Homo sapiens: one gene and its partners. The protein of the gene in region 1 interacts with the protein of each later gene in a pairwise test. Each region holds a gene or a part of one and is shown on either strand. Other genes may lie near its edges.

Evidence for each region.
Region 2: the proteins of SNX7 (region 1) and ABI2 interact in binary tests that used the Homo sapiens proteins (3 or more experiments, as listed by UniProt).
Region 3: the proteins of SNX7 (region 1) and TBC1D21 interact in binary tests that used the Homo sapiens proteins (3 or more experiments, as listed by UniProt).
Region 4: the proteins of SNX7 (region 1) and TEX11 interact in binary tests that used the Homo sapiens proteins (3 or more experiments, as listed by UniProt).

What each region holds. Positions count from the first base shown.
Region 1 is NC_000001.11:98,685,278-98,693,124, forward strand, and holds part of SNX7 (sorting nexin-7), read left to right. Parts: intron 1-5,797; coding exon 5,798-5,908; intron 5,909-6,257; coding exon 6,258-6,422; intron 6,423-7,847. UniProt on the Homo sapiens protein: Involved in the regulation of endocytosis and in several stages of intracellular trafficking. Together with SNX4, involved in autophagosome assembly by regulating trafficking and recycling of phospholipid scramblase ATG9A.
Region 2 is NC_000002.12:203,372,754-203,380,600, reverse strand, and holds part of ABI2 (abl interactor 2), read right to left. Parts: intron 4,670-7,847; exon of another isoform or gene 4,586-4,669; coding exon of another isoform or gene 4,469-4,585; intron 394-4,468; coding exon 217-393; intron 1-216. UniProt on the Homo sapiens protein: Regulator of actin cytoskeleton dynamics underlying cell motility and adhesion. Functions as a component of the WAVE complex, which activates actin nucleating machinery Arp2/3 to drive lamellipodia formation.
Region 3 is NC_000015.10:73,868,739-73,876,908, reverse strand, and holds the start of TBC1D21 (TBC1 domain family member 21), read right to left. Parts: upstream 3,346-8,170; 5' UTR 3,200-3,345; coding exon 3,140-3,199; intron 1-3,139. UniProt on the Homo sapiens protein: Acts as a GTPase-activating protein for Rab family protein(s). Essential for the establishment of male fertility, and is required for both the production of normal sperm number and sperm function.
Region 4 is NC_000023.11:70,905,345-70,913,297, forward strand, and holds the start of TEX11 (testis-expressed protein 11), read right to left. Parts: upstream 3,368-7,953; 5' UTR 3,310-3,367; intron 2,467-3,309; 5' UTR 2,446-2,466; coding exon 2,409-2,445; intron 1-2,408. UniProt on the Homo sapiens protein: Regulator of crossing-over during meiosis. Involved in initiation and/or maintenance of chromosome synapsis and formation of crossovers.

The DNA of each region.
Region 1 (7,847 bases):
AGTCACTCATTTTATAGCAGCTATACTTCTTAGAATAAGAATATCTAGGTTTTTAGTTTAAAAAAGTATTAAGAAATACCTTTGGAAAAGATGGGCCTCAAGTTGTTAATAAAAAAAGAAAATGCTTAAACAGTTCGCAATATTATGTATTCAGATTTCTTTGGAAGATTATAAAATATGGTACCATTTGTTTTTCAAAGTGGGACAGGTGGCCACTTTGTCTCATGTATGAGATACTGTTATGTGTGCAATAATTCAAGAGCAAAGTAGATCTAGAACACAGATCTCTTTAATCGTAGGGCGAAGTGCTACAAAGACAATTTACCTCAGACACAATTAAGCAACCACCTAGTATAATCTGTATTTTAAGTCCTTTATTTAATAGCATTTGAAAATAATTCTCTTTATAATATTTTGTTTATGAAGCGTCACCCTAGACTTTTATATTTCATAAATGTAAAAAGTACATCTCTTTTTTTAGCTGAAAAAGTTCTGAACTATGTTTCTATAATCACTTCTTCCAATGAAACTGCCACACTGCTATTAGTTATGTTTCCTGAAGATATATATATCTTATTTCTTCACTTGAATTCTTAAAATCCTTTCTTGGCCCCTTATTTCAGGCAGAGCAAAGTGCCGACTTTCTTGTATGACATATAAAGAGGCTTCTCAGTCTGGTGCCCACTTACCATATAAGACTTATTTGTTACACCTCACATTCAGTACCTTGCTTTCCACTCAGGTAGAGCTGCTTCTGTTTTCTGAATATTTAGGGGATCTCTTGCTCTCAAAACTGCATATAGTTTTCCTTCTGTTTGCTGTGTCCATCCCCTTCTTAGACAGAAGAAGTCATGCTTAGTTTTCAATATACAACTCAAAATGTTAGATGCCTGTGAAAGCTTCTCTAGTTGTTACTGTCCCCTGGCTGAAATAGTTATTCTTCCTCTGTTTTCTCATACTGTTCTATTGAACTCTTAAGGAATGTAAAACATAAGAGTCAATATAGCAAAATATCAAAAGCATATATTTAATCCAACTAAGCTGTTTTTTTAAATCAATGAAACTGAGATAATAGAACTCACTTCTGTAGGGTTGCAGTAGAATAAGTAATCAATGCACACCCCACTTAGTAAAGTGCCTAACACACGATAAGTGTTCAGTAATTGCCATCTACCTGTATGTGAATAGATGTTTATTTGTATTTATTCTCAGTGAGTTTGTGAGTTTCTCAAGGAAGGTAACTATATTTTAAGTTATCCATAATTCCAAACACAAATCTTAGGACATAATAAGTAAACTATTTATTTTGTTGATGAATGAGTGAAGGAATTATCTTAGCTATATCAAGATGTGGTAGAGCAAGACAACATGGAGTTGAATCTTGATTTCTCTCCTTCCTTGCTATGTGACTTGGACAATTTAATTAACCTCTCTATATTAGTTTTCTTGTTTGTAAATAGGATAACAGTACTAACCTCATAAGGTCTTTATGAAGATTGAATATGTTAATACAGGCATACTGCTAGAGTAGAGCCAAATTTCTTCTATTACTACTGTTATAATTATCTATTGTCATTATCCATTCTAGCAAATAATTTGTGAAACTGAATTATTTTTCCATCATTTGCGTCTCTCAGAAAGACACTCTTTCTAAAGCCACCTTGTGAGTTTCATTCTGATCATAGACATACTGCTCTTCTGAGTTTTTCTATTTACACATACTTTAAATGGACTGGTCTTATAGAAGTAGTAATAGTAGTAGTAATAATAATATGAAAATATATAAACTAGCAAACATTTACTGTGTGACTGCTTTGTGCCAGGTAATATTCTAACCAGTTTCTACATGTTAACTCATTTAGGCTCACAGTAATCCTCAAACGTAGATATTATGATTTACCCCCATTTCATGCACGAGGACACCGAAACTTAGTAGCTTGTTAAAGGTTACACAACATTGTAATTAGCTGAGCTGGGATTTAAATCCAAACAGTTTACTTTCATAGTATACATTTTTTCTATTATATTTTTGTGCATTTAGGTATGGATGTGGTAAACTTTCAGTTTAACTATTATAAATGACTTCCATTGTTCTACTTCTAATTACTTTTACTATTTCATAGTATATAGACTATATCTATATATACAGAAATATATATTACAGATACAAATATATAAATAGTACATGTAGATCATGTTATCAAATAGTCTTTTCTTATTATCATTTACTTACTTATTCCACAAGTTTTATTGAGTACCCCGTTTGTCCCAAGTATTGTGCTTATATATTAAGAATATATCAGTGATCAGGATAGGTCTGACAAAAGGAACTTTCTGCTTTCCTGGTGTTTTCACTCTGAAGAAGGGGTGTTTGCATATGATGATATTAAATAATTAATTTTGTACTGTGTTAGTTTGTTCTCATGTTGGTAATAAAGACATACCCAGTACTGGGTAATTTATAAAGGCGGGACATTTAATTGACTCACAGTTCCACATGGCTGGAGTAGGGGGCTCACAATCATGGCAGAAAGCAAGGGGGAAGCAAGACACATCTTACATGGAAGCAGGCAAGAGAGAGCTTGTGCAGGAAAACCCCCATTTATAAAACCATCAGATATCATGAGCCTTATTCACTACCATGAAAACAGTATGGGGGAACTGCCCCTATGATTCAATTATCTTCACCTGGCCCCGCCCTTGACACATGGGGATTATTACAATTCAAGATGAGATTTGGATGGGGACACAGCCAAACCATATCATATACTAAGTAATTTCTTTATAGTTATAAATATTTTGAAGGAAAAATATTGGATATTATGAGCATGGGATACACCATCTAATTTGGAGGTTGAAAGATGGCTTTCCTGGGAAAATCTTAGTTTTGTAAATATTTATATTCATGGGTACTAAGGATTGTAAGGGTAAATGAATATACACATACATACATGGACAATCACCTATTTAGGAATACTTAAGAATGATCCAACTGTGAATGATTGTATCGGGAAGACCACATTTGTGGCATCTGTTCTTTTTATGGGAAATTACCCTTTGTTGTCTAGGTTAGCATATTTTAAGTGACTGTTATAGAGAAGTATTTTCTCTTTTGGAGATCTAAAGATGTACGTTCTCTTAGTACATATAAGAGTAAGAATGAAGAGATTTAACAAGGTACTTTCCTTCCACTTCCTCTTTGTGAAAACAAACCTATAAATGCCTGTCATTGTATAGTTAGGAGTTAAGCTGTATTCTTGATTGGCTGAACTGACTATTAAGTTTCATTTTCCCTCAAAAAAAGTTTTCTAAATAATGAGTTTAGAATAACTGTTCACACTTGACTGAAGGTTGGTATTTTTGGAATAAATGCTTTTGGGGGTAGAGATCACACAAGTTCATTAGTACTAAACTTCAAATACCCAAGCTTTTATGGTCAAACATGAAAAATTGGCCAGCATTTTCAATGTTGCTTCCATAGAAAACTGTATTCTATGTTAGAAGCATTATTTATACTCCAAATGCACTTTATGAAATACATGATATTTCTAAGTTGGATATATGTTATCAAACCCAGTTATTTCTACAGTTTGGAAGCTTTTGTTTGGAAGCTTTTGTGCATCTTTTTTCTTTTTTTCTTTTTTCGAGACAGAGTCTCGCTCTGTCACCCAGGGTAGAGTACAGTGGCGTGATCTTAGCTCACTGCAACCTCTGCCTCCTGGGTTCAAGTGATTCTCCTGCCTCAGCCTCCTGAGTAGCTGAGATTACAGGTGCGTGCCACTACGTCTGGCTAATTTTTGTATTTTTAGTAAAGATGGGGTTTCACCATGTTGGTCAGGCTTGTCTCGAACTCCTGACCTCGTGATCTGCCTGCCTCGGCCTCCCAAAATGCTGGGATTACAGGCGTGAGCCACTGCGACATCTTACAGTGATCAAATTTGTCCACTTTAGAAGGGACAATGATTCTATTACTTGCTGTAGGGAAATTAGTCTTGTTCCAAACCCTGCTGATAATGACTGTTTTCCTTATCATATTCCTACATATGTGTCTCTTACAACCCTTCAAGAGAAGAATGAAATCTTACAGTAGGAAGAAATAACATATTCTTCTCGTTGCTTGCACTTATCCTCTGTTTTCTTCTTCTGTTGCACTACATTAGAGAATTCTTTTGAGTCAGTGACAGAGTGATGAGGATAGACTGAACCAATTATTTGACTTGATTTTATATCTTCTTACTGGAATTTATACTAGATTGTTTTATGCTTACTTAAAATGTTGGATATTCTTAGGGACGTATACAGCTCAATCTTATTTTAACTGCTGGTTTTTTTCTTTTGAGTGCTTCATTGTTCGTTATGGCAATTTATATTCTTAGAAATTGGTAGTGGACCTGTACGTATGTACCCGGTACAAGGAGATGCTCAGTAATATTTTTTAATGAGTTACTCTAAACCATGTTTTGGGTGCATATGTATGTGTGCATGCATCTATTTGCATATGGACATACACTGACCAGTCTATATTATTAAACTGTGCTGGTATTTGATATAGTTTTCCTGTTTTTACCATTTCCATATCATGTACCATGTTGCATAATAGTTAAGATTTTGTAGTGTTTTGTGAACATTTAGTTTCTTAGATTTCTGCATTTCATTCGCTCCCACTTTTTCCCATTATAAAGGGAATGTTGTACAAAGATACATTGTATGATATTCTGAACATTCATTTTAAGAGAATAAACTTTGGAAAGTATAGCTTTCATGGACCTTATTTTATGACATTGAAGATTGCATCTTATGACTTGGACTGTTTAATTTACAATTGTGTACATCTGTGTGGGTGATGGATATTTCTGGTGAGTGTGAAATATATATGCAATGTGTTATTCCATGTTTACTTCTGCAGGAAAATTTCAACCTAAATATTACTGCATGTAATTTTTAATATGCAAAAATTCAGTTAAATAAGGTATTGGTGTGAGTGACTGTTTTCCTATGAGAGGTGAGTGTACATTAGATAACTCATATTTTTATCTTTGGCTTGGGACTCAGGCAATAGAAATGAGGTTGATATTGTACCCATGTTCTTCTTGTCATATGTGTTGGCATGGATTTTTGGTTTGTTGAGAACAGATATTTTAATGTATTTGCTTAATTTTTAGGAGTTTAGGCATATAACCCAAAATAAAATTCTTTGAGAAATGACAGGAAGATTTTCTTTTCACATCAAATGTCTATTAATTACTTTTTAAACAGTGGTAAAATCACTCTAAAATGTTAGAATTTTCATATACTAAAAGCAAATCCTAGCACAGCAATTCATTTGAGCAAATTCCAAGAAAACATTTTTCTCAGTTACATTCAGGTTATTTTCCAAATTGCAAAAATAGGACTTTCCTCAAATTCTGAATTCTAATCATCTTGAGAAAAGAAATATATTTGAAACCTAAATTCAGAACACACTTGCTTGTTAGCAAGAAAGTCATGCCAAAGATAATAGTAGTTAAAATCTTGTGGAAGGCAGATGGTTGTTGTAAGACAGATTTTTCAGTTTGGATTTTAAATTTAAGTATGATATTTGCTTTCTTTCTGGAAATACCAGAAAGTTTGCTTTATTTCATCTGCTACATGAATAGATGACAAAAAAGAAAAAAATTACAGGCTGACAAACACTGAATAATTAGGATGTGTTAATTTTTCTTAGAGACCCATTTATTTCACAATGTCTAAAATAACGTTAGGCAAATACCTTCTATCTTATATTGCATGTGCTGTTATTTTCTCTTACTTTCTTCAGACATCTCGTGGGGAATTTGACTCCAGTGAATTTGAAGTTAGGAGACGATATCAAGATTTCCTTTGGTTGAAGGGAAAACTGGAAGAAGCACACCCCACTCTGATTATTCCAGTAAGTTTGCAAAATTTTTTTTTTCATAGAATAGCTACCAGTTTTCTAGTGAGTCTTTTTGAATGCCTAAAACCTAATTTCAGACCTTAAGTTCACTGTAATTCATTTATCTTAGGAATAATATTTATTTCTAAGTGTTTCAATCAATGTACATTTTTTTTTTAAAAAAAACTCTTCATAATGTGTTATGATTTCTCATTTTTGGTTCTAACATTGTGAATTTTTAAAAATTATTTTTATAAGAAATGATCAGATGTTCAACTAGTCTTCCAAACAGGGAAAGCGTAGAATTGCTTATAAACCTATGGCTAATAATACTTGAATACCTTTTTAATTTTTTTTGCCTTAGCCATTGCCAGAAAAGTTTATAGTAAAAGGAATGGTGGAACGCTTTAACGATGACTTCATTGAGACACGCAGGAAGGCTTTACATAAATTTTTGAACCGAATTGCTGATCATCCAACTTTAACATTTAATGAAGACTTCAAAATTTTTCTCACTGCACAAGCTTGGGTAAATGATTTTTATTTATACTCATATAATCTTTGGGTGTCTGTATCTATAGTAGATTGTATTGTTCCTCTTGTTTACCGTTACAAATCATGCAGTGGTGTACTTGAATTGAGATGGAATTTTTCAGAAACACTGGAGAGTTATCCTTCAGATATAACCCTGTGTCAAATCTACATATAAATATTACAGAAATCTTGTATCTTCTCCATATATATACACACACACACACACACACACACTCTCTCTCTCTCTCTCTCTCTCTCTCTCTAATGTTTTTATGTCAGGGTGCTTCTTGCATAAATAGCAAATACTGAACAGGTATAAATATATTTCTTTCATTGACACTGTAGTTGACCCTTGAACAACATGGCGGTTAGGGAAGCCAACCCCTTATGAAATTGAAAATCCATGTGTAACTTTTAATTTCTCAGAAACTTAACTACTAGTAGCCTCCTGTTGATTGGAAGCCTTAACTGTAACATAAACAGTTGGTTAACACATATGTATACCTTTTGTGTATTATATACTGTATTTTTTGCAATAAAGTAACCTAGAGAAAAGAAAATGTTATTTAAGAAAATCCTAAGGAAGACAAAATATACCAACAGTATTCTACTGTATTTATTGATACCAAGTTTATGTTGTCTGTTTACAAGATGAATTGTCAGTCTGAAATGGAGGGCAATGACAGTGGCAGACCTCAGTCTATGGTACTTAGCAAGCAATTCAACTTTTTTTGTAATGACATGACTTTTCTCTGCTTCTTGGGAACATTTCCAGCATCACTAGTGGCACTTCATATGGGTCCCATGGTATTATTTCAGGTTTATAGTATTGCACTAAACACAATAAAAAAAATACATGGGAACCACAAGAGATCACTTTTTACTGCTACACCCAATTTAATGGAGAGATGAACTACTCACATGGAGATGATCAGCGTCACATGGCATTTTAAGCAGATATTCACAACACTGGAGCTCACCACAAATAGCAACAGGAGGGCTACAAAAATAGTACAATAGTACAGTGTGTAGTGTAGTTAATTTTAAGCAGTTTTGATTTAATACTGCATCTTTATGTTTGTTTACATTTCTCTCAACTGCATATGGTGGCATGTAAGTCAAAATATGTGCATACGTTTTGATAAATTTTAACTTTTTATAATAGATTTATACACATTTTAGGGTAGTAAATGATAGACTAGTATCCACATACATTTTGTGGATTCATGACATACCTTTCTCTCAGTTTTTTCTACATTTCTGGACTATGTGGTTTGTGAGGTTTTTTTAGTTGTCACAAATCTCCAAAAAATTTTCCAGTATATTTATTGAAAAAAGTCCACATGTGTGGACCTGCTTAGCTCACACCTGTGTTGTTCAAGGGTCTACTTTATTTTGAGTAATAATGGATCAGGGCTTT
Region 2 (7,847 bases), on another chromosome or scaffold:
AATTCATTCAAAGATGACTGTTTAAAACTTGAGAATACATCACTAAGAAAAAGCAAAAAGGGTAAAACAGTTATAGTAGCAAGGAATCTTCACAACCACAACTGGGCCAAGACTTTGTCCTCTAGGAAAGAAAGACAGATAAAAAGCTTAATTTTCTCAAGAGTTGGTTTCATTATGGGTTACTACTTTTAAAAGCTTGAAAAAAATTATACCTACCTTTACTCCATGTCCAATATCATCTAGAATTGTATAGTCAATAGGTTTTCTAATATAACGAACTGGTCGTTCAAGGTTGGCTGGAGCAATAATCTTATGTGTCCTTGAAGTGTTTTTATTGGTAGTCAAAATACCAATTTCTCTTCTTGCAACTTTCTCTTTATGAATATCAACTGTCTGCAAAATATAATGTAAAAAACAACACAAAAATGTATAGTTCTAATATCCACAAAAATCAAAATATATATGCCTAGAGATTTAATATTGCTACTCATATTCTAAACTATGCTTGCTAAATTTTTATTCTTCTGGACTACTGATTTTCTCCATTTTTAGGTTAAAGCAAGGGCTGGTAAACCATGGCCCACAGGCCAAATCTGGCCCATCATCTGATTTTTACAGCCCACAAGCTAAGAGTGGTGTTTACATTTTTTAATGTTTGGAGAAAAGAACAACCAAAAAAAACCTTCACGTGAAAATTATATAAAATTCAAATTTGCTTTTCCATAAGTAAAGTTTTATTGGAATACAGCCATGCCGCTCACTTGCTTATCTGTCTAGGCTTTACACTGTAATGGCAGAGATGAGCCACAACAGAGATGGTATGGCCCACAAAAACTGAAGTATATATTAGCTGGCTCCTTTACAGAAAAGGTTTGCCAACCCCTGGGTTAAAGCATGCTAATTTTTCCCTCTCCATTAAGATTTAGACTAATATAGTGATTAAGAAAGCCCCCGAAATTAATCTAGTTACATTTCTAATGACCTATTAGTATAATTTCTATTCATGTTTAAACATCTTTTTATTTAAAAAGAAAGAGGGCTGAAATATAATGTTAAAAATAAAGCCAGGCACAGTGGCTCAGGCCCGTAATCCAAGCACTTTGGGAGGCCAAGGTGGGCAGATTGCTTGATCCCAGGAGTTCATGACCAGCCTGGGCAACATGGCGAAACCCCGTCTCTACAAAAAGTAGCTGGGTATGACAGCACATGCCTGTAATCCCAGCTAACTGAGAGGCTGAAATAAGAGAACTGCTTGAGTCCAGGAGGTCAAAGCTGCAGTGAGCCATGAATGCACCACTGCACTCTAGCCTGGGTGACAGAGCAAGACCCTGTGTCAAAAAACAAAAAAGCCATTTTTTGACCCCAAAAGACCAAGTTGCTTGGGCAAAGCTGCTTATATTTTATCATGACAAAATGCCTGTAAAATATTTCATTAATTTATTTATATTTATTAAATGCTCACATAAGACATACGAGTAAGAATGTATTGTAATTACAATCTTCTATTTGCTAACAGAGGGTGAATTTCTCCACATACACAGGTAATTAGTACACTAAAGCAAAATTTTTTAAACTGCAAGCTGCAATTTAGTGGTATGTAAGCAGCAATTATTTCAAATCAAATAGAACAGAAACATCAGACTGCATGTACACATAGTAAGGTAAAATACTGTTTCTTGAAAAGTCTGTTTATTATATATATAAATATATACATGAATTATGTGCTGAATACAACGTAAAAAAAATTTTTTCCTGTGTGTCGCAGTCAAAAGAGTTTGAAAAATCACTTCACTAAAATGGTTCACATCTCTTACCACCAATTCCTGGCTCAAGCAGCAATCAACAGACACATTTTTTGCTAACTCCTCCCCAGTCCCACTTCAATGTCCTACTTCAATTTCCCCTTTCTAAAAGAACCTGGTAGTAACAGTGAAAAGATAATCATCATGACATTATAAAATACTGCTTTAAGAAATCTGAACACTGATCATTTATCCTTCTAAACTGCCTCAAGTATGAGGTAAGCCTGAAACAAATTCAAAGCCTCTTATTTCTCTACAACCAAGAGACCTTAAAAACAACAGGATCTATATGTTCCAGAGCTAACGAATGTATAAATGGAACATCAAATAAAAAACTAACCATGGTAGTAATCTTACAATTTTAAGTATTCAAGAAAAAAACAATCTCAGCCAGGCATGGTGGCTCACGCCTATAATCCCAGCACTTTGGGAGGCCAAGGTGGGCGGATCACAAAGTCCGGAGATCGAGACCATCCTGGCTAACACGGTGAAACCCCGTCTCTACTAAAAATACAAAAATTAGCCGGGCATGGTGGCGGGTGCCTGTAGTCCCAGCTACTTGGGGGGCTGAGGCAGGAGAATGGCGTGAACCCAGGAGGCAGAGCTTGCAATGAGCCGAGATTGTGCCACTGCACTCCAGCCTGGGCAACAGAGCGAGACTCCATCTTAAAAAAAAAAAAGAAAAGAAAAGAAAAAGAAAAAGAAAAAAAATAATCTCTAAACTTTTCTACGCATGTTAGGCTAATTATGAGAATAGCTTTCCTCTTCAACTGCTTGGGAAAACTGTAACAGAAAAGTTAAGCTTGCATATTAGTGATGATATTGGAATTCACTTAATTTTTAACTTTAGAGAAATGGAAATTAATCACATTTGGATTAAATTTTATTTTTATGAGACAGTATCTCACTCTGTCGCCCAGGCTGGAGTGGACTGGCCCGATCATGGCTCACTGCATCCTCGACCTCTCAGGCTGAAATGATTCTCCCGCCTGAGCTTCCTAAGGAGCTGGGACTACAGGCGTGTTCCACCATGCTGGCCTAATTTCTCTACTGTCTGTAGAGTTGGGGTTTTTCCATGTTGCCCAGGCAGGTCTTGAACTCCTAAGCTCAAGTGATCCACCCACCTTGGCCTCCCAAAGTGCTGGGATTACAGGAGTAAGCCAATGTACTGGCCTTGAATAAAGTTTAGTGAGTCATTCTAAATCATTAAAAGTATGGGCTAGAAATACCATTTCATACCATCAAGTATGCTTCAAAAAATAAAATATGACACTTTTTTTATAAAATGGGTCTTCGTCAGATCAATAAAAGGTTCATCAGATAACACAATCCTCAAGACATTGTTTTTATTCTCCTCAGTTTTTAGAAATGTACTTAACTTATTCAGAAATGAAACTATAAGAGTGTAAACCTGAGCAGCCATAACAGAATTACAAGCTTATAGCTTCTATTTCACATCTGCATACTATAAATATACATTTTTTTGCAACAGGTTCTCACTCTGTCACAGAGGCTGGAGTGCAATGGGACAATCATAGCATACTGTAGTCTTGAACTCCTAGGCTCAAGCATCCTCTTACCTCAGCCTCCTGAGTAGCTAGGACTACAGGCATGTACCACCATGCCCAGCTAATTTTATTTTTTGTAGAGATGGGATGTCACTGTGTTGCCCAGGATGGTCTTGAACTCCTGACCTCAAACAATGCTCCTGCCTCAGTCTCCCAAAGTGCTGGGATTATAGGCATGAGCCACTATGCCTGGCACATACTAGAAATATTAATAAATCTCCAGAGAATGAACAGGGAGAAGTAATCTTCCACTTATTATTTACACTAACACACAGTAATATTTTATAACAAGCACATATTTCTTGTTTGAAAAATTGAGACTTTAAAAAAGCATTAAAATATAAATTAGAAATCTGTTCATTTGATCTTATAGAGATGTGACTTGGTCTAGGGATTGGGGACATTTACATATTACCCACATGTTCTCTTCATATACACACAAACACACACTTAGCCCAAACCCATAGACCATAACAGTAAAAAAAAAAAAAAAAAAAGGGAAGACCAATACAGTAAATAGAAAGATAACAATAAGCCTAAAATAAAGGGTCATTGTTATAATAGAGCAAAAAAATTGGCACTAAGCCTCCAGGGAGAGAAGGCAAAATAGAAACATAATGAGTTACGAGGAAATATATCAATTCATCAGGAAAGTGAAATGTTTCCCAGGATTAAATTCTTTAAAAATATATTTGTTGTTGCTTTTTATATCAAATCTCAGTAAAAACTGAAGGCATGTTTTTTAAACAGCATAAGTATACAGAAAGTCAAAATAATTTAGTTTGGCTATATGATGTTTTTAATTGTCTACTTCAAAGAATGCCTACATCTTAGAAACACTAGGGGCAGGGTAACTCAACAGTGGCACTATTGACATTTTGGGCTTGATAATTCTTTGTTGTGGGCAGGGGTGAAGGCTGCTGTCTTGAGGATTGCAGAATATAGAAAAGCATCCAGGTAGATAACTGTAGCACTCCCCCACCATGAGATGTGACAACCAAAAATGTCTAACATTGCCAAATGTCCCCTTGGGGGCAAAACTTCCCTGGTTGAGAACCAAAGATCTATAGAGGAAGGACTAATTAGCTGGTCCCTTACCTCATTCAATCTCAAACTGCAATTGTTTCCAAATTTGGTCACAAAAGTCGACTCAAGATCAACGCCTCTAATTTGCCTAAGTATAGATATTTTAAGTAAATAACTTTTAAAAAACATCTATAATAATAAAGGTAATCTAACAACGGTATAATTTGCATTCTTGCCATCATACTACCACACGGGGTTGAACTGCAGTATTGCCTGTGGGCAGAAGAAAACATGCCTTTAGAAAATGGCTACGGTTCTATTTGGAGTTTGAATAATTTGACAGAGAGCACTAAATCTATTTCATAAACAAGCAGAAGATTCTCAGGTTGGTCCAGAAGATTCTAAGGTTTTCAGCAATCATCTGCTTCAATTTTTTTATAGCTTTCACTTGTAGAAAATAAGCATATTCAAATTAGATAGAATAATAAACACTCCCTCCTCACATCTATCATGCAGCTTTAACATTCATAAATTCGTAGACAATTGTCAGTTGTAAAAGAAATTTAGGAAAGCTCCTGTAACATATTCTTAAATAAAATATGGCTACTATATTTTTCCTACATCAAATTCACAGTATCAGTAATTATGGCATTTGCCCTCATGATATTCTTTGACATTACAATGTTAAATTTCATTAAGTTAAATTTTGGAAGTACAAGTTCAACACTGATATTTAGGATGAATTTTAAAAGTAAGAAAAGTATTTCAAATTTATTCTGGGTTTTTTAAGTTACTAGTTATATGACAATAAACCTACTTATTTAGAAGAGACCTCAATAACAGCACTCACCTGTGGCAAGTAAAAAATGTGTTCTGCTAGCAATCAAAGATGACCAAAACTAATTCAAATACACAATTAATATAATTATTGTTTGCTACAGATCCCATTAACCAAAAAACACACCAAGATATATCACTGCAATTGTATAGGACTTAATAAACAACTATTCTCCCACAGTTCCTTATTAATTAGCTTCCCCATCCTTCTCACTGATATTGCCAAGCTGATCTTGCATGCTGCAGGCTTTCCCCATGACACTTCAGCCACACAGTGCCAAACCCAGGTTCCTTAAGGATACCTCTTATGGCCTTGAGATAATCATACTGACTCCCAGCTCCTTTGCAAGCCTGAGCCCCACTCCCACATCTCCCTCATGAACCCAAGCACATGCTCAGGCCACAGCAGATGACAGGAAGGTACTGTATAAAATATTTTGTTTTAGGATTATCCATGCATTGTCATTTCCCATTACCACAGATAATTGAAAGTTGACTGTACTGGATAGCACTACCTCAGTTAGCTGCCCATCAGTGTGGGAAAACATCTGCAATCAAACAGTTACAGTGGATTAACCCAACTAAATTGGGTGTTTTTAAATATGTCTCAATTTTTTTTATTAGTAAGCTAATGTTTCAAATAAACATTTAAATTACAATTATGCTTCAAATTATGTATCATTCATAAAACAAATTAGTTACTAACAGAGTAATTTTCAGTTTTTTTATATAAAGTGATATAAAAACTACATAGGAAATTAATTGGGAAGTATAAAAAGTCTACTTTCTATGCATAATTACGTATTGATAACCTTCAGTGTATCTCCTTAATTAAAATTGGAAATTCCTTTTTTTTTTTTTTTTTTTTTGAGACAGAGTCTCGCTTTGCCACCCAGGCTGGAATGCAGTGGCACGATCTCAGCTCACTGCAACCTCCGCTCCCAGGTTCAAGCAATTCTCCTACCTCAGCCTCCAGAGTAGCTGGGATTACAGGTGCCCACTACCACACCCAGCTAATTTTTGTATTTTTAGTAGCGACAGGGTTTCACTATGTTGGCCAGGCTGGTCTCAAACTCCTGACCTCAGGTGATCCGGCCACCCTTAGCCTCTCAAAGTGCTGGGATTACAGGCGTGAGCCACGGAGCCTGGCCAAAATTAGAAATTCTTAAGCAAGGCTATCTATATAAAGTTTTTGTGTTTTGGGTTGTTGAGACAGTGTCTCACTCTGTTGCCCATGCTTGAATCCAGTGGCATGAACATGGCTCACTGCAGCCTCGACCACCTGGGCTCAAGTGATACTCCCGCCTCAGCCTCCTGAGTAGCTGGGACTACAAGTGTGCACCACCACACCTGGCTAATTTTTGCATTTTTTGGAGAGATGGAATTTTGCCATGTTGGCTAGGCTGGTCTCAAACTCCTGACCTCAAGGGATCCGCCTGCCTCAGCCTCCCAAAGTGCTGGGACTACAGGCATGAGCCACCACACCCAGCCTAAAGTTTTTAGACAGTAAAAGCTACCCTACTTGTTGAGTTCTTAAGGCCACTGCCTTTCAATACCTAGCTCTTGAGAAGAATTACTTCCAATTTTATATTATTTTATGATAATTATTTTCCAGCTCCTTTAATTGTTACCTGCTAACTAATTTAACACCTGGCCCAGTAAGTCCTACTCAGCCCTTGGGAAGGTGGGAAGAGCACTACTTTCTTAAGTTCTTTATGTTGCCTTTTGACCTTGCTTAATCTTTTTTTCTAAGCCATGACAAACTTGAACATGGATAAGTACTGACTAATTTTACTAGCAAAGAAAAAAGATGGGCCTCGCTTAGAAAAATTTTAGTTTAGTCTCCCTCTCCCTCTCCCGCTCCCTCTCCCTCTCCCTCTCCCCACGGCCCATGGTCTCCCTCTCCCTCTCTTTCCACGGTCTCCCTCTGATGCCGAGCAGAAGCTGGACTGTACTGCTGCCATCTTGGCTCACTGCAACCTCCCTGCCTGATTCTCCTGCCTCAGCCTGCCGAGTGCCTGCGATTACAGGCGCGCGCCGCCACGCCTGACTGGTTTTCGTACTTTTTTGGTGGAGACGGGGTTTCGCTGTGTTGGCCGGGCTGGTCTCCAGCTCCTAACCGCGAGTGATCCGCCAGCCTCGGCCTCCCGAGGTGCCGGGATTGCAGACAGAGTCTGGTTCACTCAGTGCTCAATGGTGCCCAGGCTGGAGTGCAGTGGCGTGATCTCGGCTCGCTACAACCTCCACCTCCCAGCCGCCTGCCTTGGCCTCCCAAAGTGCCGAGATTGCAGCCTCTGCCCGGCCGCCACCCCATCTGGGAAGTGAGGAGCGTCTCTGCGTGGCTGCCCATCGTCTGGGACGTGAGGAGCCCCTCTGCCTGGCTGCCCAGTCTGGAAAGTGAGGAGCGCCTCTTCCTGGCCGCCATCCCGTCTAGGAAGTGAGGAGCGTCTCTGCCCAGCCGCCCATCGCCTGAGATGTGGGGAGCGCCTCTGCCCCGCCGCCCCGTCTGGGATATGAGGGCGCCCAGCCGCGACCCCGTCTGGGAGGTGAGGAGCGTCTCTGCCCGGCCGCCCCATCTGAGAAGTGAGGAGACCCTCCGCCTGGCAACCGCCCC
Region 3 (8,170 bases), on another chromosome or scaffold:
AGTGGGAAGGAATTAAAAGGCAAGGATTTTCCACTCAAATAAAAAATATGTATCTTACACAAGCTGTGAACAAAAGAAATACCTTAAAATCAAATGCCCTACAATGATTAAAAAATAAATGACGAACAAAGATACGAAAAAAAGTCAAACACAATGGAGAGGTAATATTGAAATTAAAGTAATATGCACCGCACACCGTAACAAAAGATACAGCATCAACGCAATAAGGCAGAAATAATTAGAAACATCACAAGAAGACATCTGTTGAGTATTCAGAGAATTTGCATTTCTAAACCTCTACCTGTAACAATTGGCCATCTGCCTACTTTGCCGTGGTTGAATTTGTTTATAAAAAGTCACTGCTTCGGCCGGGCGCGGTGGCTCACGCCTGTAATCCCAGCACTTTGGGAGGCCGAGGCGGGTGGATCACGAGGTCAAGAGATCGAGACCATCCTGACCAACATGGTGAAACCCCTTCTCTACTAAAAAAAATACAAAAAAAAAAAAACAAAAATTACCCGGGTGTTGTAGTGGGCACCTGTGGTCCCAGCTACTTGGGAGGCTGAGGCAGGAGAATGACGTGAACCCAGGAGGCGGAGCTTGCAGTGAGCTGAGATCGCACCACTGCACTCCAGCCTGGGTGACAGAGCAAGACTCCGTCTCAAAAAAAAAAAAAAAAAAAAAAAAAAAAAAAAAAAAAAAAAAAAAACCCACAAAAAAAGTCACTGATTCTTCCTTCTAGGAAACTCCATTTCTCTACACCCACCAGTTCCCTGTATCTCTCCAAACTTCAGCAAACTATAGGCCACCCACAAGACTATCTCAGACACTTGCTAGCAAGCCAAGGACCAGAACAAGAAGGCTGTTGACCCGCAGAAGGCAAAGGGGGAAATGTCACTTAGAAGCCCTCTCTCTACATGCACACCACCTACCTGCCTATGCTAGAAATCAGAGAATGTGTATCTGGGCTCCTTTAATGTGACGGAGATTGTCAACACAGTGGCTTCTCAAATCAACCTTCATCTTCCCATATTCCTCTGTTCTTTGCTCAACCAACCTAATAACACCCTTTTCCATACACTGGGTATAATGACCTGGTAATCCGGGAGGGGAAGTCTGCAGTTTGCGAGGGGGCTGGATACCCTCCAGCTCTGCAGTGGTGCCTTTCCTAGTGTCCTGGGAAGCGTACTGCTAGATAGAGCAGCTATGGAAATCTCCCACCTTCAGGGTGTATCTAGGCAGGTTAAAGTTCTACATCAGCAAACCTGAGGAAGCCTTGGCCATTCTTCCCCTGGGGAAGGGGACCAGAAGTGGGAGCCCTAAGTGGCTCAGTCCCTCTAAAAGTTTCCTGCTGCTAGAGGCCTTGGCTTCAGGCATAAATCTCCTCTCCCCACTGCATCATTGGGTTAGGGGTTTTCTCCCATATTTTCAGTAAAAAAAGAAAGCCTTTGGAGGACAAGAAAAACTTTTTATGAGGGTTTTAATGCCAAGTTTCTCTGAATACTCATAGCCACAGAACCTCCAATAAAGCCCAGGGAAGGTCATTGACTTTGCTTAAGCTTCCCTCCCTCCCTCCCTCCCTCCCTTCCTTCCTTCCCTTCTTCCCTCCTTCCCTCCTTCCTTCCTTCTTTCTTCTTCTTCTTCTTCTTTTTTTTTTTTTTTGATGGAGTCTCACTCTGTCGCCCAGGCTGGAGTGCAGTGGCGCAATCTCAGCTCACTGCAACCTCCACCTCCCTGGTTCAAGTGATTCTCCTGCCTCAGTCTCTTAAGTAGCTGGGATTACAGGGACTCACTACCACGCCTGGCTAATTTTTTGTATTTTTTAGTAGAGACAGGGTTTTGCCATATTGGCCAGGCTGGTCTTGAACTCGCGACCTCAGGTGATCTGCCCGCTTCGGCCTCCCAAAGTGCTGGGATTACAGGCGTGAGCCACTGCACCTGGACAGGTTCTCTTTTCTACTCCAGTTCACCTGAGGACAAGATAGACTCCCAACCGTAACAAGGGGTTCCCACTTCAGCAATTATTACCAACCCAGGTGTGGAGGGTGTATCATCAGTACAGCACCGTGATGAAGAAAATGGTTTAAAACAGTGGTTCACAAAGCTAATTGTGCATCACAGTGCCCTGGAGGGATGAGTTACAAAAAACACAGATCTCTGGGCTTCGTCTCCAGTTTATTGGTTCAGAAGATCTGGGGCCCAAGAGTCTGCATTCTTACAAGTTCCCAGTTGGTGCTAATGCTGCAGGTTTGGATGCCACACTTTGAGAATACTGAGTTTTGCACCCCACCTGTCTGGGTCGAAATACAACTTCTGCCACTTAACAAGCTGTGTGACTGTAGGCAAGTGACAAAGTCTCTGTGGCTCCATGTTCTCATTTATAAAAGGAAGACAACAGCATTATTCACTTCATAGAGTTGTGATGAGAATGAATGACTATAAATAAAGCATTTAGAACATTCATCGTACATAATAAATGCTATGTGACAGTTTATTTTATTAGCCTTCTCTAAGCTCAGAGAAATGAGAAAGATATAAAGAAAATTTAAAGCAAGGCCTGGTGATAATTTGCCATAAAGCAGTAACATTTAAAACTCAGGGAGAGGAGTGTCCATTTTGCATTTTTATGTATCACTCTCTTAATCACTATGATTAATGAGACTTAAGATTGGCTAAAGTTATTGTAATTAGTTATGATTTTGAAAAAATACCGTGTGGAAAATTTTTATGACTGAAGCCGACTTCTAACAAATAGCTGTATCTTGTAAACTGGGTTTAGAACTACCTACTAACAAAAGCATTACTGCCACCTGGTGGCAGTATACCAAAATTGTTGGCAAAAAGCACCGATGAAAATCTATCAGCATCTTCAGGTTCGCACCTGCAAACCTACAACTCAATAAAGTTAGAATAGCACATATGTGGAGAAGGTTTTGCTGGCTTGGAAAGAAGGTGAAAGGGGGCTTGGATGTCTCAGTCCTGTCCTTGGGCTGATGGTAAGAGTAAGGTACAACCGCCCTTGCTCCACCTTCTATGTTAGCTCAGGGTTCTAGCTTTTCCTACCCAGCAGGGGAAAATGGTCCCAGTGCCAACCAGAGGCTGGGGAGGGAGGCACTCAGAGCTGACAAAGAACACGCACCAGGATGAAGGAGGCTGACTGTCTGGCAGAGAGGCTGTTTTCAGGAGAGAGGGTGGTCATGGCCCCTGCTGTCTTCCGAACAGCCTCTGATCAGAACTCACTTGGAGCCCTAGTGATGCTTAATCCTTTTCGGAGATGGGTTGCATTCCCAGGAGGAACTGGCTGCTCCTGACCTCCCACACTTGAACAGAGCCGGCCAGCAGTGTGTCACAAGTCCCCTGGAACTCTCATCACAATGACCTGGAACACGGGAACACCCACCTTTAGAGATGAGACACAAGCAGGAGAAGAGGGATTAAACCTGCTAGTTTTGGAAAAAAAAAAAAAAAGGAAAGAAAAGAAAAGAAAGAAAGAAAAACAAAAAACAACAACAAACAGAAAAATGCAAAACTGCAGAACACGCAGTGGAGGTTGGATTCAGAGGACATGGGGATCAGTGTGGGCTGTGCTGGTCAAGGAGGGCTTCCAGGGAGAGGTGGGCCATGAAGCCTTGCTCTCTATCTCTGACTCTTCCTCTGGACTCTCTTAGCTGGACTCCCTCCCTATTCCACCAGACCAGTGCCCAAAGTTGGAGAATAACTAGAAACCAGGCTTCAGATGTCTTGGGTACCAGTTATAAAGATTCAGAATCAGTATGTCAGTGCTGGGGCCTGGGGGGCTGGGGAATGTGTTTTGATATGCCTCCTGGGGTGACTTAGCTTCAGCATTGGAATGGTAGCTTCTGGGGTGGAGATCAGTTTTGTTTAGCTTTTTATTTGGAGCACTTACGATCGTGCCTGAGTAGCTGAGTTAATGATTTAATTGAATGGGAGAATAAATGAAGCTGTCTTAGACCTCATCTCACTTCCCTCTCTGTATGTATGACAGAGATTTGTGCCTGCCCCATATCACCTCCTACCCTGAGTTCCTTTAGGCCAGGGTCAACATCAGATTCCTCTGTGGTTCCCTCTCCCAATGCCAGTTCTGCCATCACTTGGCACTTGGTAGGTGCTCAATATTTGTTGCATGGACCCAAGGAGTTGGCTCTGCTTGGCTCCAGCATCACTCTTCTCCACCTTAAGCATTGCTTGCACTTCTACTCAGGTCCCATCTGGCTCTAAAGCATCCTTAGTCATTAGGAGATGATAGTAATTCGACCAACCAAATTGGAATCAGGAGCTGGGTGTTGGAATTTGGACTCTGACCTCAAATTTGGATGCTCCCCGCTTCTGAGCTACAGATTCCCCAGACATGAAATCAGAATACAGTCAACCTCTGGCTTTCACCTCCTTATTAACATAATGAATCACTGTCCATATGGAGTCTTCCACGGACACAATTCATTGTCTCATTTACTGTTTCTGTTCTGCTTGCCTGCGGCACTGCAGAAGGCCTTTTAAATCAAAATGCCTTATTATCGGCCTCTCTCCTCTACCCACTACCCTAGCTCAACCTAGGAGAGAGTTAAGAGCCTCTTCCCTTTGATCTACTGCCCCTAGGTCTTCATGGAGTGGGAGGTGGGCAACGTTGAGTAGGGAAGGTGTGGAGTAAGGATGGGGCCCCTTGCACATTAGGGTGGCTTCATTCTAAGGTCTGCAAGAAGTTTCCAAAGCAAATGTTTAGAGCAAGAGACATAGACATCATTTAGGATTATCTATGTCTCTGTTCTTCCACATTAACCACGTAGGCAACTGAGGATTCACTGCAATTGTTCCTTGAGAAGATGAGGATCAGGTCGGGAATTGGAAACATCTGAGGGCTCAATTCAACCTGGCTTCTAAAACGAACATGGTGAACATAGATCAACTACTGAACTTCTTTTAACCTCTGGCATCCTATCTGTGAATTGTAGGTGATAACCCTTCCCCAAATGAGCCAATACAGTTTAGTCATATTACAAAAGCCCCATAGCAACCACATGGAGGCTTAATATTCAAACAGAACTGCAGGACTCTGTAACGGAAGCAAAAAGGGCTTTTATTCCATCCCTCTTTCTTCTTTTTTCAGATTCTGAAAGGGAATTACATGTGTCCATTTTTTTCCAGGGCTGAATGATCCTTACCATGTCCATTTATTTACATAATTGCCCAAGTGCCTTGGTTTCCCATATATTGCTTTTCTGTTATGCATTTTCTCATCTCTGATGGGAATCCAGCTTTCTGCTTTAAACTTCTATACGTGAGGATTCTTCAGGGAAAATATTATTTTAGGTGTTTGCATTAAAGAAGTCCAAGGAGGGAGAAACCCACTCAGTTCATTTTTCTCTGCTGAATCTGGCTGTCCATTAGCTGATGTGGCTGGCATGAGGAGGGAGAGGAGACTTGGAGTGGCCTGGGGAAGACCTCTCATCAATGAGAAAGCTCATAGGCTTTGGTGCCAAAAAGACCCGGTTCAAATCCTGGCTCTGCTGCACACCAATGATATGACCTAGGTTGAGAAAGGCAGTCTCATGCATGTGGTTTTTTAACCTCTGCTCAGCCCCATACAAGTGGCCTTGAGCCAAAAACACTTCCTTACCAACAGATAAGGAGCTCTCATAGCTTGTGCTGGGCTTATCGCCTTACGTGGGAATATCTTTTTCCTGTTTCAGACTCAGCGTGTACTCTTTGTTCTGCTTAAGCTTGTGCGTCATGTGGCAGGCACCTGGCCAACCCCACTGTTATATCTGTTCCAGGTGGGGAGGAAACAGGGTCCACCCGCTGCTGCACAAGAGGGGTGTGTGCAGACCGTCACCTTGTGTCTGCTGTAGCAGGAGACCCCTGGCCATGCGGGACTGAACCCATGATTGCAGCTGATCTTACTCTGTCTCTTCTCTGTGTGAGTAAAGTGTTGTTCCATCTAGTGCCTGTGTGAGTCGTGTCTTTCGTGGCGACACCTATAAACCATGGAGTGGGCTGACATCCTGGTTCTGCTGCTCCTGGTGGCGGGCATTGTTGTGCTGTTTGCCGTCCTCTACACAGTGCGAATCTTCTCTACCCTGCCCGAGTCTCGGCATCTCCACATGTGCCATGAGGATGGTAATGCTTTACAGAACTGAAGGTAATTGAAGCATGGCCCTGGAGCGCAGGAGGCACCCAATGTGTGGTAGTTATTATTATCTTCAGCATCGCCAGTATTATTACTAATGCCTAGGACTTGTCCACAAAAATCACTATGAAAATTTACTTCTGTGAACTAGACTCACATCAAAATGCTGCCTGCTTCCATGAGGCTTGTAGTGACATCCATGTACAAGTTCAAAGACCCTCTGAGCCAATTTCCACTTCTCTGCATGTCTCTGGGGACCTAGGGGACCAGGATTACTATAAAAGCAGGTAAGGCCAGTATTAAAAAGCAGGTTCACTCCAGTTCCCTTCATGTCAATGCAACAAGACACAACTTTGTGAAATGCCATGCAACTGTATCCCTGTTAACAAGTATCAACCCCTTCAAAGGATACCTACCCATGACTGTCTCAGTCTGCGGCACTCTAGATCTTGATAGAAATCACACGCATTCTGATTTTATTTCATTGCAAAATGCCAAGGATCTTCCATGCCAAAGCTGCACTTTTCTCTTTACCCCTCTTTGTGGAGGACCAGGGTAAGTTTAGATTTTTGGCTTCAGGCTTTCTGCCCTCAACTCCATGGAGCATGGCATTTCTGACAATGCTGGAGATGGCTGCACGTCATGTGTCACTAGCGTGAGGATAGCAGGGACGGGGAGTGGTGGAGACAGCTCCCTTCTGAGCACCAAGGTAGTTGGATTCCCCAGAGCAATAACCAGCCCAGTCACCCTAGAAATCCCCTAACCTAGTTGGAGGGCTAAGGAGTTACTGCACTTTGGGCCATCTCTAAGGTCTTGGGGAGCCCACCTCCTAGGTAGCTCTCTTGCATTCCAGAAATAACCCATAGGAGCAACTCTGGACAAAAGAGGGACACTCAGCCATGGGCAGCTGAGGCAGAGCTCCTGACTACTCTTTCCACCCAGTCCTGCTCCGTGAGGGGTCTTCCTCATGGTTCTACCTGTCACCTGTCCCCCAGCCCAGGCTCCTGGGTCACCACCAAAGCAGGTAGCTCGGACTCACCAAGCCCAGGCTATGCCTTTCCTGCTACCCATGTCTCCTGTTCATTTAGTCCCCAAGTCTCCCTCTTGCCTGTGGACCTCCCCACCACAGCTGCCTTTTACTGGGCACTTGCTATATACCTCCGGTGAAGTGCTTTACCTAAGTGAGTGCCAGCCTTGAACACTATGAAGTCAACAGAAGCTCAGAAAGGTTAAGTAACTTACCTGGGATCATCCAGCCAGAACATGGGGAGCCAACAACCTTCCTAGCTCTGCCTAGCTTTGCCACTAGCCAGGCCGTCACAGTGTCACGTGGAGCTGCCTCCCCCTTCCTGTTGGCAGTGGTGGGCATCGTGGAGCTCCTAGCTGGCTCAGGGGACTGTAATCCTACAGCCCAGTGGGGAGGGGGGGGAGTTTGCTATAACTCCCTCTCCAGGTTTTAAAATAGTTATTCAGTCTAAAAACAGACTATGTGGTGCTGGTTGGAGGTGGGGGTGGGGAAGTATTGCAACCTAGATTATAAAGATGATGGAAAGAGTGAAATGGAGAGGAAAAAGGACAAGAAACTCCAGCAAATGCCAGGGACTGCTAATGGAGAGAAATAACATGGCTAATTACATCTCTGAAGGCTATCCATTCCAAAATAAATGTTTAATGAAAAAATAATGCATTTTCCCTGCAACTTAAATCTGGGAGTGAAGAGAATGAGCAGAGTCTCCCAGTGGGCACTAGAGTAGCTGTGCATGTGCAGGGTTGCCTCTGACCGTCTCACCTTGATGAGTTGCTTCCCCAGCGTCCTCATCCTGAGGGTGACCACACAGCAGTCTTCCCAGGGAAGCCACAGGAGTGAGCCATGGGAACCTCACACACCAAGCAACTAGGCTCCAGGACACCAGGGGCAGACCAAGGTCTGTAAATCCAACTCCCTCCCCCACCAAAGCTTGCGATGTTTCTCTCCAACAGCTCCAGGAGGCCTTCTCTGGTTATTTTCCTCCGCCCACCTCTCCT
Region 4 (7,953 bases), on another chromosome or scaffold:
CAATGTATTGAGGTAGTGAGTCATACCCAGCATTTCTTTTCAGTCAGACCTTTGCTGAATACCCAGCATTTTTTTAATGAGAAAAATAGAATAGAAAATATCATAGTGTACTGCATGTAATGAGGATAAAATTTTGTTTTATTAAACTTTTGACACAGTATGTATGTACTGGGATGTAATCAAAACATTTTCTTGCCATGAGTGGTAGTCAAAGATGTTTTTGAAAGTTTCTGTTAAACTCTCAGAAACACAGTGTTCGTTGTAGCATTGTTGTTTTTAACAGCAAATATTTGAAACCATTTTTATGTCCAACAAAGGAGACTGAATGAATAAATTGTGGTACATTTAGGTTCAATGAAATACTACTCATCAGCAGTGGAAATAAATGAACTAAAAGTATTCATATGGGTAAATATTAAAAACACAGCCTGGCACAGTGACTCACGCCTGTAATCCTAAGACTTTGGGAGGCTGAGGCAGGCAGATCACCTGAGGTCAGGAGTTTGAGACCAGCCTGGCCAACATGGTGAAACCCCGTTTCTACTAAAAATACAAAAAATTAGCCGGGCATGGTGGCACGTGCCTGTAATCCCAGCTACTCGAGAGGCTGAGGCAGGAGAATCGCTTGAACCTGGAAGGCAGAGGTTGCAGTGAGCCGAGGTCACACCATTGCACTCCAGCTTGGGCAACAAGAGCAAAACTCTGTCTCAAAAAAAAAAAAAAAAAAAAAAAAAAAAAAAAAAAAAATATATATATATATATATATATATATATATATATATATATATATCACAATGCTGAGCAAAAAAAGGAAAAAAGAAGACAAGCTGCAGGAAAAAGAAATATAAAATAACTATTTATATAAAATTTAAAAAGAAAAATGGTACATGTAATCTTTTAGTTCTTTGAAATATCTGAAGCATATGGCAAGCTTAAGATTTGACAAAACTCAGTGGTAGGTACACAGATGTTCATTATATTATTTTCTATACTTTTCTGTGTGATTCAAATATTTATGTAAATACAAAGTCTCAAATATTATCAACTTAAGAGTCATAATCCCTATTCCATCTTTATACCTTTAAGATATTTTATCCTAATTTAAAACTTAAAGTAGATAGTAGCAGGCTTTATTGTTATTGTTTTAAAATAACAAATATTGGCCTGGCATGGTGGCTCACACCTGTAATCCCAGCACTTTGGGAGGCCGAGGCAGGTGTATCAACTGAAGTCAGGAGTTCGAGACCAGCTTGACCGACATGGTGAAACCCTGTCTCTACTAAATGCAAAAAATTAGCCAGGCATGGTGGCGCGGGCCTGTAGTCCCAGCTACTTGGGAGGCTGAGGCAGAAGAATCGCTTGAACTCAGGAGGCAGAGGTTGCAGTGAGCCAAGATGGCACCACTGCACTCCAGCCTGGGCAACAAGAGCAAAACTGTCTCAACAAACAAACAAACAAAACAAGCAAACAAAAAAAAGTATTAACAAAATGTTGACCTAAACTTTTTAAAATCATAGATTTGTAGCCACATTTCTTACCACATATTTCATTATTATATGAATGTGAAGGTACCACAGGTCTCATTATTCCCCAAAAACAAAGATAGTACCACAAACTCTCCTATATCTAGCACAGTTGAGGAATCTGGTGTTCTGGTCAGTCAAATTGCTTTTGTTTATTGAGAGTTCCCATAAATAGCAAACATGGATTACCAATTTTCAAAAGAATTAAGACACAATAAAATGTACTTAAGTCTAAAACTACACAGGATATAATTTATTTTTCACGGATGATTATGGAAAGGAACTCCAAGATCTTGCAGTAATTTTTTAAACTTATTTTTATTGCAATAGATTTATCTTCCAGATTAAACGTTTTATTTTGCATGCCATAAAAATCCTGAAAAAAAAACAAGTTATGAATTGTGAATTCTGTCTCCCTACACTAGTTCATAAAAAGGTTCCCAATGTGTTAAAAATAGACATTGTTTCTGGTACATAAATGAGAAAACCTGGTGCTATGGACACTGCAGAAAGACAAAACTCAGAAACAAAATATTTAGATTTTTTTTTTTTTTTTTGAGACGGAGTCTCACTCTGTCGCCCAGGCTGGAGCGCAGTGGCGCAGTCTCTGCTCACTGCAAACTCTGCCTCCCAGGTTCAAGCGATTCTCTTGCCTCAGCCTCCTGAGTAGCTGGGATTACCACGCCCAACTAATTTTTGTATGTTTAGTAGAGACGCGGTTTCACCATGTTGGTCAGGCTGGTCTCGAGCCCCTGACCTCGTGATCCGCCCGCCTCGGCCTCCCAAAGTGCTGAGATTACAGGCGTGAGCCACCGCGCCCAGCAATATTTAGATCTTAAAGCAGCAGTTTGACACTATTTTGTACTACCACGTAGAGCTACGTACCTTTAAAGTCCATGGAAAAAAAATCATCATTGTCCATTTTTAAATCTCTGGCTCAAGCCTGTGAAATAATAACATATTTTAATACTCTGTTTTATCCTCTAGTTTCTCAACAAATTTCTTTCCAGTGAAATGTTTCCCGTTACTTGTTATCCAAAGGGAGAAAAAAAGGCTGAGTAAAGTTAAAAGCCCATGAAAGGGCTTTTGTGAGGGGCAGGGCCAGGCTGCCAAGTTACATAAAAGGGACCTTTTCTTACCATAAGTCTGCCTGGCAACGGGGGAAATGGAGCTGAGTGGTACCCTGTTATTGGTCTGGCTGGGTCTCGCTGCTTCTTCCTAATTGGCTCAAAATCCGCTTCCGCTACCAACCGCACATTCAAAGCATCCAATCACTCACGGTCCTTTTTCCCGCTCTGTGAGAACGCTAGCACCTTCAGTATCCTGCCCCCAACGGTCATGAACAGTCCTGCTTCAACGTAATTTAGGTCCTTCAGCATCTAAACAACAATAACTACTATCTCCGGTTTTCAGTGGCCCACCACAACTCCCCATACTCCTCCATCCTCATCAAAAAACATTACATTGCCCCCAACGGTCATCAACAGTCCCGCTTCAACGTAATTTAGGTCCTTTAGCATCTAAACTACAGTAACTACTATCTCCGGTTTTCAGTGGCCCACCACCGCTCCCCATACTCCTCAATCCTCGTCCAAAAACATTACATTTGCCCATCTTCGTTCGCCTTGAGAGCGACGAGCAGTTCTGTAGTACAAAGTCACTGCCTTAGGGCCGCTCTAAAAAGTTTTGGCCTAATGGCTATAATATATTCTTGCTAGTTATAAACTACCCAACTAACTTGTGCTTGAAGCCTATTCTACCCCTTCCTGCCCACTAAACCACTCACCTCAGCCGCAGCCACCAATGCCGCCCTGCTCTCTCCACAACCTCCGTCCACAGCGCACGAGGACGTTCAGAAAACTCCGCCCCCTAGCGACGCTAGCGGTGTCACGCTAGGCCACTAAAGCCACTCCCACTTGGCCTTTACGCTGTGTCACGGAGCCTAAGCCTTGCGACCCAGTCTAGACCTTAGATCCTGGGGATGCAGTTCAGAGAGTCAGTCACTTGGTGAGTTCAGGGTGAGAATAACTGAGAGTAAGCAAATATGATGTAATTCTGAAAGCATAAGACAATGAATTGAGGGAAAAGTGCAGATGGCCAGGATTACCAAAAGGAGAGCAGGACTTCACACACACAAAAAAAAGAACAGAAAAAGAAATAAAGCAAGTAGACATTGTTGATCACTGGTTATGCAAGAGTGGCAAAGGTCAGAAATAGCAGAAATATTAGAAGCTGAGGAGACTAGTCGAGGCCAGCCTGATCAACAAGCCAGACTGCACCTGAACCAAAAAAAAAAAAAAAAAATCCAGGTGTGGTGGCACACGCCTGTAGTTCCAGCTACTTGGGAGGCTGAGGTGGAAGGATCATTTGAGCCTGAGAGTTTAGGTCCAATAAGCCATGATCCCACCACTGCACTCCAGCCTGGGAGACAGCGAGATCATGTCTCTTAAAAATAAAAAATAAGTCGGGGGCAGTGGCTCACGCCTGTAATCCCAACACTTTGGGAGGCCAAGGCAGGCGGATCACCTGAGATCGGGTGCTCCAGACCAGCCTGACAAACATGGAGAAACCCCGTCTCTACTAAAAACACAAAATTAGCTGGGCGTGGTGGTGCATGCCTATAATGCCAGCTACTTGGGAGGTTGAGGCAGGAGGGAGAATCGCTTGAACCCGGGAGGCAGAGGTTGTGGTGAGCCGAGACATTGCACTCCAGCCTGGGCAACAAGAGCAAAACTCCGTCTCAAAAAATAAATAAATAAATAGGCCGAGCACGGTGGCTCACGCCTGTAATCCCAACACTTTCGGAGGCCGAGGCGGGTAGATCACCTGAGGTCGGGAGTTGGAGACCGGCCTGACCGACATGGCAAAACCCCGTCTCTACTAAAAAAAAAAATACAAAATTGGCTGGATGTGCTGGCGCATGCCTGTAACCAGCTACTCGGGAGGCTGAGGCAGGAGAATCGCTTGAACCCGGGAGGCAGAGGTTGCGGTGAGCCGAGATCGCGCCATTGCACTCCAGCCTGGGCAACAAGAGCGAAACTCCGTCTCAAAAAATAAATAAATAAACAGGCCCAGCGCGGTGGCTCACGCCTGTAATCCCAGCACTTTGGGAGGCTGACGCAGGCGGATCACCTGAGGTCGGGAGTTGGAGACCGGCCTGCCCAACATGAAGAAACTCCGTCTCTACTAAAAAATTACAAAATTAGCCAGGCGTGGTGACACATGTCTGTAACCAGCTACTCGGGAGGCTGAGGCAGGAGAATCTCTTGAACCTGGGAGGCGGAGGTTGCGGTGAGCCAAGATGGCACCATTGCACTTCAGCCTGGGCAACAAGAGCGAAACTCCGTCTCAAAAAAAATGAAAATAAAATAAATAAAAATAAAAAATAAAAATAAAAAAAGCCTTTTAGTTCCAAGACGTTTCTGTTGCCCTGCCTTTGTCCAATCATTAGGAAACTAGGAGACTCCCCTGCAGTCTCACAGCAAGCTCGCATGTCCCACCCATCTCCAAACCAAATGGCTTGAGGGGTGGAATATGTAAGTAAAAATTTGATTCCAGCTAAATCTAAGCATGATGCTAATCTCCACTCAGAGATAACAGTGTGAAAACATGATGCCTCCAGATTTGTAGACAAACACAGAATCAAAACATTAATAAGCCTCCCACTTCTTCCTATATACCCCTCTTTTAAGCCTTGTGCACCTCAGGCCAGATATGGAGCTGGCTAACAGGATAAAGAAGAGAGATTGTGGCTCCAGTTTCTGGGAACATTAACAGAGTTCCTTCCTGATCCTGAAAGTCTCAGAATCAGTCATTAGATCTCGTGGACAAGATGAGGTTACTAAAAGTAATTTATTTTCCCTCTTCAAAATTGTATCTAGATTGCATAGTACAATGAAGAAAAATGGGAAAACAGAAAGTACTGCTATTAATTCCTCTTCTTTTGCATCCTGCAGTTTGGTATGTCTTTATTTCATAACCCTCGATTGCCATATTAGGGAAAGAATTCTGGTGAAAAGGAGCAGTGGAGTATGCCACAGTTGACTGACTCTCCATGCACCATATACTGTGTGGCCTTGAGCCAGCTTTAAGAATCTTAGCATCTAAATTGGGCATGGTGATTCACACCTGTAATCCCAACACTTTGGGAAGCTGAGGCAGAAGGAATCCTTGAGCCCAGGAGTTCAAGACCAGCCTGGGCAACATAGTGAGACCTTGTCTCCATACAAAAAAAGATAATAATAATAATTAAAATTTAAAAAGAGGCTTAGTGCAGTGGCTCACACCTGTAATCCCAGCACTTTGGGAGGCCAGGGTGGGAGGATCACTTCAGCCCAGGAGTTTGAGACCAGCCTGGGCAAAACAATGAGACCACATCTCTAATTTTATTTATTTATTTATTTTTTGAAATGGAGTCTCGCTCTGTCACCCAGGCTGGAGTGCAATGGTGCGATCTCAGCTCACTGCAACCTCTGCCTCCTGGGTTCAAGAGATTATCCTGCCTCAGCCTCCTAAGTAGCTGGGATTACAGGCACCCGCCACAAAGCCCAGACAATTATGGTATTTTTAGTAGAGATGGGGTTTCACCATGTTAGTCAGGCTGGTTTCGAACTCCTGACCTCAGGTGATCCATCCGCCTCAGCCTCCCAAAGTGCTGGGATTACAGGTGTGAGCCACCGTGCCCAGCCTCTATTTAAAAAAATACGTATATATTAAAACAATCTTAGCACCTCAATTTCCTCATATGTACAATGGGAATAAAAGTAATTCTAGGCTTCTGGTTCAATAGAATAATGCACATAAAGCATCTAGAACAATGGGTGGCTGGCATATAGTAGTAGTCACTTAACAAATGTTAGTTCCCATTATCATTTCCCATTTCCTGGTTGACAAACTTCCTACTTCCATTATCCCACCTAAACCCCTGGTTCCACCATAGCTTCTTTGTTCATGGATGAACAGATGAACAAGTAAGGTGATAATTAGAACTCAGCTCTCAAGACTACAAGCAGCCCTTTCACATGCATCTTAGAGTTCTTAATGATTAATAACGTCTGCGGTAGAATGGATATTATACTATTCAGCATTATATAAGGCATATAGGAATCACATGATTCTATTGATGAATACCAGTTGTAAATATGACTCCAAAGTTAGGGCTACTGAGCTGACGCCAGTGCACTGAAAGGGCCAGTGAATAAAGGAAAATGTACGGAAAGGGTGAAAACCCTGATAATACATGGATATCTTCAAATTTTTTTTTGTTTGTTTTTATCCAGATGGCCTTCCTAGATGTTACAAGTAAATGAAAATTAAAAGAAACAGAAGAAAAAAGTAAAAGAGAGAGAAAAGGAGAGCAGATAAAAGAAGCAGGTACATATTGAGGTGGATAAGCAAGAGTGAGCAGTAAAATGCCATTAAGTAGCACTCAACATGCTGTGGATTATCTTCCTTTACCCTCCTAACATAAGCTATAAGTTTTCTGTCCTACCCTTTAACAAAATGTTACAGAAATGGTGAAATACATGGTACATAAGATGGTTGAACAGCTTGGACTCTAATGAGAGCCTATTAAAACTCTCATCAATAGAGTGGATTAAAAGACAGTTAGCAACCAAGAACACAAATTAGTTAATAAAGTAGCATTACGCCCTGTTAAAAGAAGAGAAAGACTTCCAGAATAAACATGCAATTACAGTCAGGAAAATTCTAAAAACAAAATCATTAATGGAGGGAGGAAGAGGAGCTTGTTCTTCCAGATATTAAAACTATTGCAAATAAAATTGTGTGGTAATAGTGCAGACAGATAAATGAACAGAATAGAGTCCAGAAACAGACCCAAATATACATAGAAATTATTGAAATCAGTGGGGCAAAGAATTATTCAAGAAAAAGTGTTGAAATGACTTTAGAGCCATTTGTTAAAAAAAAAAACTAGATCCTTACCTCTCATTTCATATACCAAAATAAATTCTACATTAATCAAAAATTAAATCCAATCATAAAATTTCTATTAAAAATAGGTGTGAATATCTTATAGCTTTATTAATATACTAAGACGTAGTAGTTTTTTTTTTTTAATTTTACCTAGTTGGCAAGATCTAAATATGATCTGGAAACCCAAATCAAAAAGGGAAAACAGTAAGTTTTACTGCATAAAAAATAACTCTTCTGAGTGGCACTATAAGCAAGGTTGAAAGACAAACCACAGACTAAAAAAAGATTTTTTCAACATATGTAACAGATAAAGACTTAACATCTCTAACATAAAAAGAGCTCTTCAAATTAAAAAGAAAAAGACAAATACTCTAGTAAATAAAAGCTCATAGGACATGATCAGACAAATTACACAGGAAGAGTACAACCAACAAACACATAAAAAGATACTCGGTTGGGCAAGAAGGCGCATGCCTGTAATCCCAGCACTTTG